2 linked regions of the Homo sapiens genome follow. The protein of the gene in region 1 interacts with the protein of each later gene in a biochemical or structural test. Each region holds a gene or a part of one and is shown on either strand. Other genes may lie near its edges. The genes, in order: PPRC1 and NRF1.

Region 1 (4,534 bases):
CACTCTTGCTCACCGCACTCCACACTGCAGCCCTGGGTGACAGAGTAAAACCCTATTGTCTAACAAAAAAAAAAAAAAGAAAGAACATCTAAGAAAAGGTCCAGAAAAGGTCCTCTCTTTTCATGAACATGTGTGGGGATGTATAGTGATGCAATATTTCTAAAGGGCAATTTTCTACTGTATTTCAAATACATGCATTGTTTAACTCGGCACTTGAATTTCATGGAAACTATTCCACAGAAAGATTGCACAAAAGTGCAAAGGTACATGTACATGACATATGCAAGGGTGTTCATCATAATAATATGTAATAGTGAGAAACTGTAAACAACTTAAATATTATTTATTTTTGAGAAGAAGTCTCACTCTGTCACCCAAGTTGGAGTGCTGTGGCATGATCTTGGCTCACTACAACCTCCACCTCCTGGGTTCAAGCAATCCTCCTGCCTCGGCCTCCCGAGTAGCTGGGACCACAGATGTGTGCCACCATGTCCAGCTAATTTTTAAATTTTTGGTAGAGGTGGGGTTTTGCCATGTTGTCCAGGCTGGTCTCAAACTCCTTAGTTCAAGTGATTCACCCACTTCAGCCTCCCAAAGTGCTGGGACTACAAGTGTGAGTCACCGAGCCACGGCCAGAAACAACTTCAATATAATTTAAATAACAATACATTCATAAAATAGAACTGGTGCTAAAGGCTCAGTAAATATTTAGCTAGTGAGTGGATTAACATATTGTTACATAAAAAAAGCAAATCACCAATTTGTGCCCCTATATATTTTTCCATTCATAGAAAAAAGCGTCAATGAATACACACTAAAAGTAACAAGGGGTTTAAATCTGGGCAGTAGAACTATAATTTGCAGGCCTACTACTTTTTTTCCTCTAAACAGTCTTGTACTTTTTGAAATAATTTTTGTGCTTTGTAAAAAGTTATTTAAAAATAGCAAATATGAAGTAGCTTTTAAGTGGCAAATGAATGAAGAGTAGAGACAGTGATGGACCGTAGAAACGCAGAGCGGGATCCCTCTTGGCTAGGACAACCAAAGCCTTTCCTAGATTAAATAAGGCATGAAATGTTTTGAGGTTCAAGTATTCCAGGTCGACATATAGGCAGGAGAACACCTGTTGTCTTTAGGGAACAGCAAGGAGACCTGAAACAGCAAGAAACAAATTTGATAGAGAAGGCAACGTAAGTTTCTGAGTAGTAGCAGAGAGGGCGGAGAACGCGACATTTTCCGATTAAGTTTGCAGTACTGCCGCAATATGGGATTAGGTGAGGATTAGCGCTTGGAGCGCAAGTGCCCACTAGGGGGTGGTGTTTCAAAACATATACAGGCCCACTTGGCCCCACTTGGACTAAGGTGAAAGGAACGTACAGCAGGTAGAACGTCAAAGAGGACGTTCCAACAGTTGGACAAGTTAACGACAATAAAATACGCAAATGTTAACTTTCCCCCTAACTGCTGAGCGCTCCCTAAATCGGTATCCCAGTGTAACGCAAAACTAAGCCCTACAGGATGCCTGCAGCTAGTGCCAAACGGTCCCCACTTAAAGGGACTACTACTCCCAGGAACCTTCGCGCGAGGCCAGGGCCTTCTTCCAGGGTGCAAGTGGGTCTCGCCGCACGGCTCTCTGGGATTCGTAGTCTTGCAGTGTCATTCGGGAGTTGTAGTTCCTTTCCCACAATCGGCTGGGCGAGGCGGCGCCAGCGATCAGAGCAGCGCTGGGTGTTCAGGGGCCAAGATGGCGGCGCGCCGGGGACGGAGAGACGGAGTCGCGCCGCCCCCGAGTGGGGGCCCCGGTCCGGACCCTGGCGGGGGAGCCCGCGGCAGTGGTTGGGGAAGTCGAAGCCAAGCGCCGTATGGGACTTTGGGCGCTGTGAGCGGCGGCGAGCAGGTGAGAGGTTGGCTGGCGGCCCGCGACAGGCAGCAAAGCGGTGTGTGCCGGGCGGTGACACGTGGACGCCACAGGAAAGAGAGGAAGCGCCTGAGAGTCGATGCCGGGTGGCCGCGGGAGCCGGGCCGGAGCAAGTGGGCCCTAGGCCGTTTGCTGGGGGTAGGCGGGCAGAGGCAGCGTCTCTACGGCCATTCCTGGGGGACGCCGGAGGGGGAGAGCGGGGTGTCGGAAACATAACCCGCGGCTGGGGGTCAGGGGTTCGGACTTGGGGTCGAAGGCTGAGACCTCCATGTAAGGATGCCCAGTGAGGCTCCCCGAGCCCGGCGCCGCAGTTCCCTTTTCGGAGCCACGTGGGGTTGGGGGAGCAATTTTCCCGGGAGAACTTGTCTGCCTCCCCTCCCCCTCTAGGCGGCCCGGGCATCCACGTGGGTCGGGCTCCTGGTGGAGGGGGGCGCAGGCAGCGGGTCCACGTGGGGGCGGGGAAGGAACGTCCACGTGGCTCCCGTCCCAGGCTGTCGGGCATCTAGTATCGGCCTTGGAGCCTGGCTGACGCGAACTGGGTGTGTCTCCACGGGTCCCGCCATCTCCTGCCGGGGCTGGAGGCCCGGGCCGGGAAGGAAGGTAAGGGCTGCTAGAGTCAACTTTGTTCAGAGCCTTGGAGGTTTTTTTTTTCCCTGCTGCTTGGGTCCGCAACGTCTCTCCACTGCGGATGGTGAAGGACTCTCCAGATGTTGCGGGAGTTTGTTCCCTGCGGATGGCTGAGTGTGATGGGGAGGGTAGAGGGCTGAGGCTGAAGGGTTGTGGAGGAGTGAGTTTGTGGCGCTTCCGTCTGACCGGCTTGGGGTGGGTTGTGAGTCACGGGCATTGGCGTTTTGGTTGCCTTGCAGTCTTGCCTTATTAGTGATTCAAGGGGTATGGGGAGTGTCAACATACACCTGGGACAAGGTTAAGAAAGGGAAAGGGAATCCTCTCCTCACTTTTTCCTCCAGCATCTCTTTTGGGAAGGCATGCTCCTGTAATCTGACACGCAGAAACTGGGGTGGTCCGTACTTAAGGCTCTTCGGATTTTTTGCTGGGGATGGGAAAAGTTGGAGGCGGTTTGAGAACTGTTCAACATGTTCAACAGTTGAACATACACTGGATGAGGAGGATTCTGTTAGATATTTTTTTCTTGGCCTTCAAAAAGTGTTATTGTTCTACTCTACAGTGGAGGGCTTCTTAAAAGTTTCCACCCAGGGTAGAAGGGGCAGGAATTAGTTTGAACTGTTACCTCTCTTAAACAATTAAGCTGAGTCCTTGACAGCATTTTTTGTGTGTTACTAGGTGGGAGTTGGGCTGCAGGCTGCCTGGTAATATCAGGTCCGGCAGACCAATCCAGGCCCTTGCCCAGGGGAGAATGGTTTCTGGGGCAAGAATTTGGGAGCGCTGATCCCTTCTCCCCTACTTTCTCAGAGGTCACATCTTTTGGGGCTGGTGCTGCCTACCTACCAGAGCCCCAGGGTCTAGGCCAGAATCTCAAGGCAATGCCCAGCTCTCTATGAACCATTCATCTTCACCTCCATCAGGTGTCCAGTCAGAGACACACCCTCACACCTGACCTCACCCATCACTGAATTCCCAAATAGCACAGGGAGAGTCAGGAAGGATCCAAGATCCAGCTATAATAGTTAAGTAGTAATTTGGGATTGGAGAGGATCTCATGGAGAGATTGTCATTCCCTTCCCCCGAAAACCAAAGATGGGTATATGTGAGCTGGTCAGTCAGCCAGTTATTTATTGAAATACCATTATGTTTAGGCACAGGGGACAAACTGGTAAACCACATAAACATGGTCTTTATCCCTCAGGATCTATGTTTTAATCAGGATAGACCGATGATAAATAATAATGAATGAGACAAAAGTGCAGGATATTTGGGATTATGTAATTGGCAGTAGTGATCTACTTTGCAGAGTCTGAGACGGGACATTTAAAGCTGAGATGTTAAAACTGTGGAAAACCTTTAATCAGGGAAAAGTGAAGCCCTCAAGGAGGAAGAGAGCATGGCTTATTGGAGAAACCGAGACCTGTACTACAGAGTAGTGGGAGAGGACACGCTGGAGCAGAGGTCTGGTGGGGAAGACAGGACTTTTGTAAGCTATATATATATATATTTTGTTGTTTTGTTGTTGTTTTTGAAATGGAGTCTTGCTTTGTCACCCAGGTTGGAGTGCAGTGGTGTGATCTTGGCTCACTGCAACCTCCATCTCCTGGGTTCATGCAATTCCCCTGCCTCAGACTCCTGAGTAGCAGGGATTACAGGCAAGCACCACCACACATGGCTAATTTTTGTATTTTTAGTAGAGACAGGGTTTCACCATATTGGTCAGGCTGGTCTTGAACTCCTGACCTCAAGTGATCCACCCACCTCAGCCTCCCAAAGTGCTGGGATTACAGGCGTGAGCCACCACACCCGGCCTGTAAGCTATATTAAAGAGTTTAAACCTAATGCTAAGAGCAGTAAAATGCCATTGAAGGGATTTAGGGAGGGTCTCAGGCAGTGATCAGATACATATTTAAAAAGTTTCTGACTGTTTTTGAACCCTGGAGGGAGCAGGTTTGGTGGGTGAAAGCTACTTGGGAGGTTTTTGAAGTTAGA
Region 2 (3,813 bases), on another chromosome or scaffold:
ATGTTTCAAGGAAATTTAGCTCCTGTGTTAAGAGAAGGAGCTATAGAAGTAGAAGATAATGAGGGCCCTTGTCCAGATATAGAAGGTTTAAAGGAGAAAGGATTTCAGGTTTCCTTCTGAATTCCTGTGTATGTCGTTAGGACCCCAAATTGTAGGTTTTTTGTTTTATTAAACGATAATTATGCACTTGTCTAATTTTGTTAGGGAACCGAAGGCCAACTTCCCATGATTTAAATACCTGAATTTGCATTGCCTGCACACTGTAGGTTCAACCAAATCTCTGGGTTGTCTTTAGAAGCATTTTATGTAAATAATCACGAATGAGTGACTTGTTTTAAGGGAAATTTAAGCTCCTGTGGTCTGGGATTAAATTTTTATGCCTTTTCTTGTATGGAATAAGGCATTCAGTAAAGTTGAAGAATAATAACAATGAACAGTAATTACTGAAATTAAAATTTTTCCCTGAGTATTTGAAAAGGCATGCTGATTTTTTGGTTTCTGGAGGAACTATGAACTGTCAGTCTTTAGAAACAGTCTACAGTCCTACCTCAACAGGAAGTTAATGTATACATTCAGCTTCTGTCAGATGTCTTTAGACAAGCCTGTTGCTTCATGCTGAAGCAGGCTTATTCATTCACACAGTGCCACTGTGAAAAATTGAAGGGTGAGGGGAAACTCCCTGGGCTGTTGAATTTCACAAATGTCTACTTTAACCTCAAGAGTTTAGATGCGCCCTTTCTGGGCCAGTAATCATCTAGGAAATGGGATATCTGAATTTAGATGTTTGTGTGTGACTGTGTGATGCTTATTAATATGTATATATAGAGTATTTGGAAAATCAATCTTAAAATGCAAATCTTTGATTTTGTAAAAAACATTTCAGGAAATGTTCTATACTAAAATACATTTTCTTTATGTTCTTTCATGTTTTCCTTGATAGCTAAAGCTAGTGTTTTCAGCCTGAGCTTACCCAAATATAATTTTCCATGAATGCTTAGTAAAACAGCAATGAAAAAGGAATCCACTTGTTATTTTAGAAACATTTTATTTAGACCAAGTCCAATGTTTTTTGAGTCTCAAGATACATGTTAATTTTTGTGCCTTGTGTATCATATTTCCTTCCTTATTAACTAGAGGGTGGATTACCCACTTTCTTGGGTTTTCAGTTAGTACTTTTATCCATCAGTTTTCTACTAAGGTAAACAGACTGGAAGATAAATAGTAAAAGGAGGTGAAACAAATGAATTTCAGGTGTTTCCAGGAGATTAAAACCATATTGAGCTATTGGAAACTTTTAATCCTCAAGCAACAACAATGCTTTGTTTGAAGTTATTTTAGTGCAATATGGACAAAACTTGGGAAAGGAATTTTTGACTGCTCAAGAAAAATAAGTGGATTGCTTATACCTTAGAATATATATATATACACACACACATATATATATTTTTTATTTTTTCAAAAGTGCACTTCAGAATTGGGCTAATGTATTTTCAGCCCAACTTAATGCAGTGTAGTTAGCAAAACATCCAAAAGGCTTCATCATGTTGTGGTCTTTAGGCCTAAAATGTTTTAAAATGTGAACATTTATGTGATACCAAGTAAACTTTCTATGACCCAAAGAAGGGCTAGAAATAAAACTTTACAGAGATGTTCTAGTATATTAGAAAACAATGGCTGGTTATGGTGGTTCATGCCTATAATCCCAGCACTTTGGGAGGCCAAGGCAGGAAGATTGCTTGAGGCTAGGAATTCTAGACCAGCCTGGGCAATGTAGTGACATCCTGTCTTTACAGAATATTTAAAAAAACAAAAAAACGAAAAACTAGCTGGGTATGGTGGCATATGCCTATAGTTTGAGCTATTCAGGAGGCTGAGGCAGGAGGATCACTTGAACTTAGGAGTTTGAGGTTGCAGTGAGCATAATCATGCCATTGTGTTCCTGCCTGGGCGACAGTGCGACCGTGTTTCTTAAAAAAAACTAGTTGCTGTTAAGGTAGGCCTACCACATTTGTAATCTCTTGAGGCAAATCTGTGTTGTTTCTCTAAGAGCAGTCACTTAGAAGATAATCTGACAGTAAGGAATGGTCTACTGAATCCCAGATCTGGTAGTCTGCCTTGCCCAATCACAACATAGTTTGTGTAAAACTCCAACTGCTACTGAACCATCAGATAATTTCTTGAGGAAGCCGTTTCTCTTAAGGAGAAGTGTGTGTGTGTTGGAGGGAGTGTTGGTGGGGAGAAGAGGGGTAAAGAGAAGATGATACTAGTAAAATAATCTAGTTTTGTAGGTTGGGATGATCACTGGAATTTTTTAGGGGAAATATTCTCAAAAAAAGTTGTAAGAGCTACTTTTGTATGGGTTATCAGTTTGGTGATTTAGACTATAGTAATTGCATTGTTTAATATGCATTGTATTTCGATTAATTCATGCATGCTGATTTCTGTGGTAACAAATGTGAAAAGTTTGGCTGATGGCTTAAGTGGACATTTTCTTAAGAACTCTTTAAGTGGTGCCTGTTGGGATAAACTATGCCAAGCCATTTTCTGAATCTTCATGAAGAATGAGCTTTGTATGCATATATATTAAGACAGTTTTTTTTAAAAAGAGCATGTATTTTACTGTTGGTAATTGTAAAGTTTTTGCTTTTTAGAACTTTAAGAGTCCGTTTTGTTGCTGCTACTGAATGCTAATGTGGTTAGGCTGGCAGCTAAACCTACAAAGAACAAGGGGAAATGAGGAAATGTCCCAATGAAACATTGCTTAAAACTGTTTGCGCAGTGGACTAGAAATGGGGAGTTGGGGACTAGGGGACCTGATTCTTGTTTTATGTTCAAAGGAGAGTGAAGCATTCTCTCCATTAAGAAATAACCTCCTTAAGTGTATTCTCACTTTGGAGTTTTGCCACTCATTCATTCACCTGACGATGATTAAAGATATACCACATTCTGGGCATGTACTAGGTGCTAGAGTAACAAATCTTGGGCCTTGTCGTGTAGAGCAGAAAGGTATGGGCTCAACTAGCTATGTTACAACTTCTAGAGAACCAAAATAGAGCAAACAAAGAGTGGTGTGGGATTATAGGAGGAGGGAGAAATTCCTTCTAGGGAGAGGAGAATGATACACAGAGAAAAGTGAGGTTAGGGAAGACTTTTCACATAGGGGAAGTTTGAGTAGGACTTGGAAGGGGGAGTAGCTGCATTACTGATGGAGAAGAGGGGCTGAGAGGAAGGGCATCAGTAGTCTGATTTGAGAACTAGCAAGTGGATTTTGCTCGACTTGGAGAATAGTGGAAAGTGAAACTGATAAGGTTGTGGCCATATTGGGAAGAGTTTGTAATTCCATGCTCATGAGTGTGAACTTTATTCTATAGGCATTTAGGGACCATAAGAGGTTTGAGTAGGACATCCACTATGGTTTTTAAAAAGATGACATGTAAAGATTTGACTAGAGACTTGTGAGAGTATTGAATTGTGATGTAAAAGGACATCGATTCTGGGGATAATTTTTACTTCACAGTTGTCAGATTTGAGTGACAATTGAGTAAAGAGTTAAAGATTATAGTGTGGTTATTGGGTGATGATGATGCCTTTAAGATAGGGAATGTATAGGAAGAACAGAATTTGAGGAGGAAGGTAATAGAGTATGACTCCAGATGTGTTAAGATATCTGGGAATCAAGAAAGGTCAAGTAAGTACCTGGGTATTTGGGCTGGAGCTCAAGGGGACATTGGGATAAATTAGGGGATTTGCATTCATCAGTATAATGCCATATAGAAACTGCAGAAAGCCAGGCATGGTGCCTCACACCTGTAA

Evidence for each region.
Region 2: the proteins of PPRC1 (region 1) and NRF1 form a complex in vitro, tested with the Homo sapiens proteins (one study listed by BioGRID).

The regions. Positions count from the first base shown.
Region 1 is NC_000010.11:102,131,325-102,135,858, forward strand, and holds the start of PPRC1 (peroxisome proliferator-activated receptor gamma coactivator-related protein 1), read left to right. Parts: upstream 1-1,715; 5' UTR 1,716-1,744; coding exon 1,745-1,897; coding exon of another isoform or gene 1,898-2,056; intron 2,057-2,418; exon of another isoform or gene 2,419-2,518; intron 2,519-4,534. UniProt on the Homo sapiens protein: Acts as a coactivator during transcriptional activation of nuclear genes related to mitochondrial biogenesis and cell growth. Involved in the transcription coactivation of CREB and NRF1 target genes.
Region 2 is NC_000007.14:129,614,629-129,618,441, forward strand, and holds part of NRF1 (nuclear respiratory factor 1), read left to right. Parts: intron 1-3,813. UniProt on the Homo sapiens protein: Transcription factor that activates the expression of the EIF2S1 (EIF2-alpha) gene. Links the transcriptional modulation of key metabolic genes to cellular growth and development.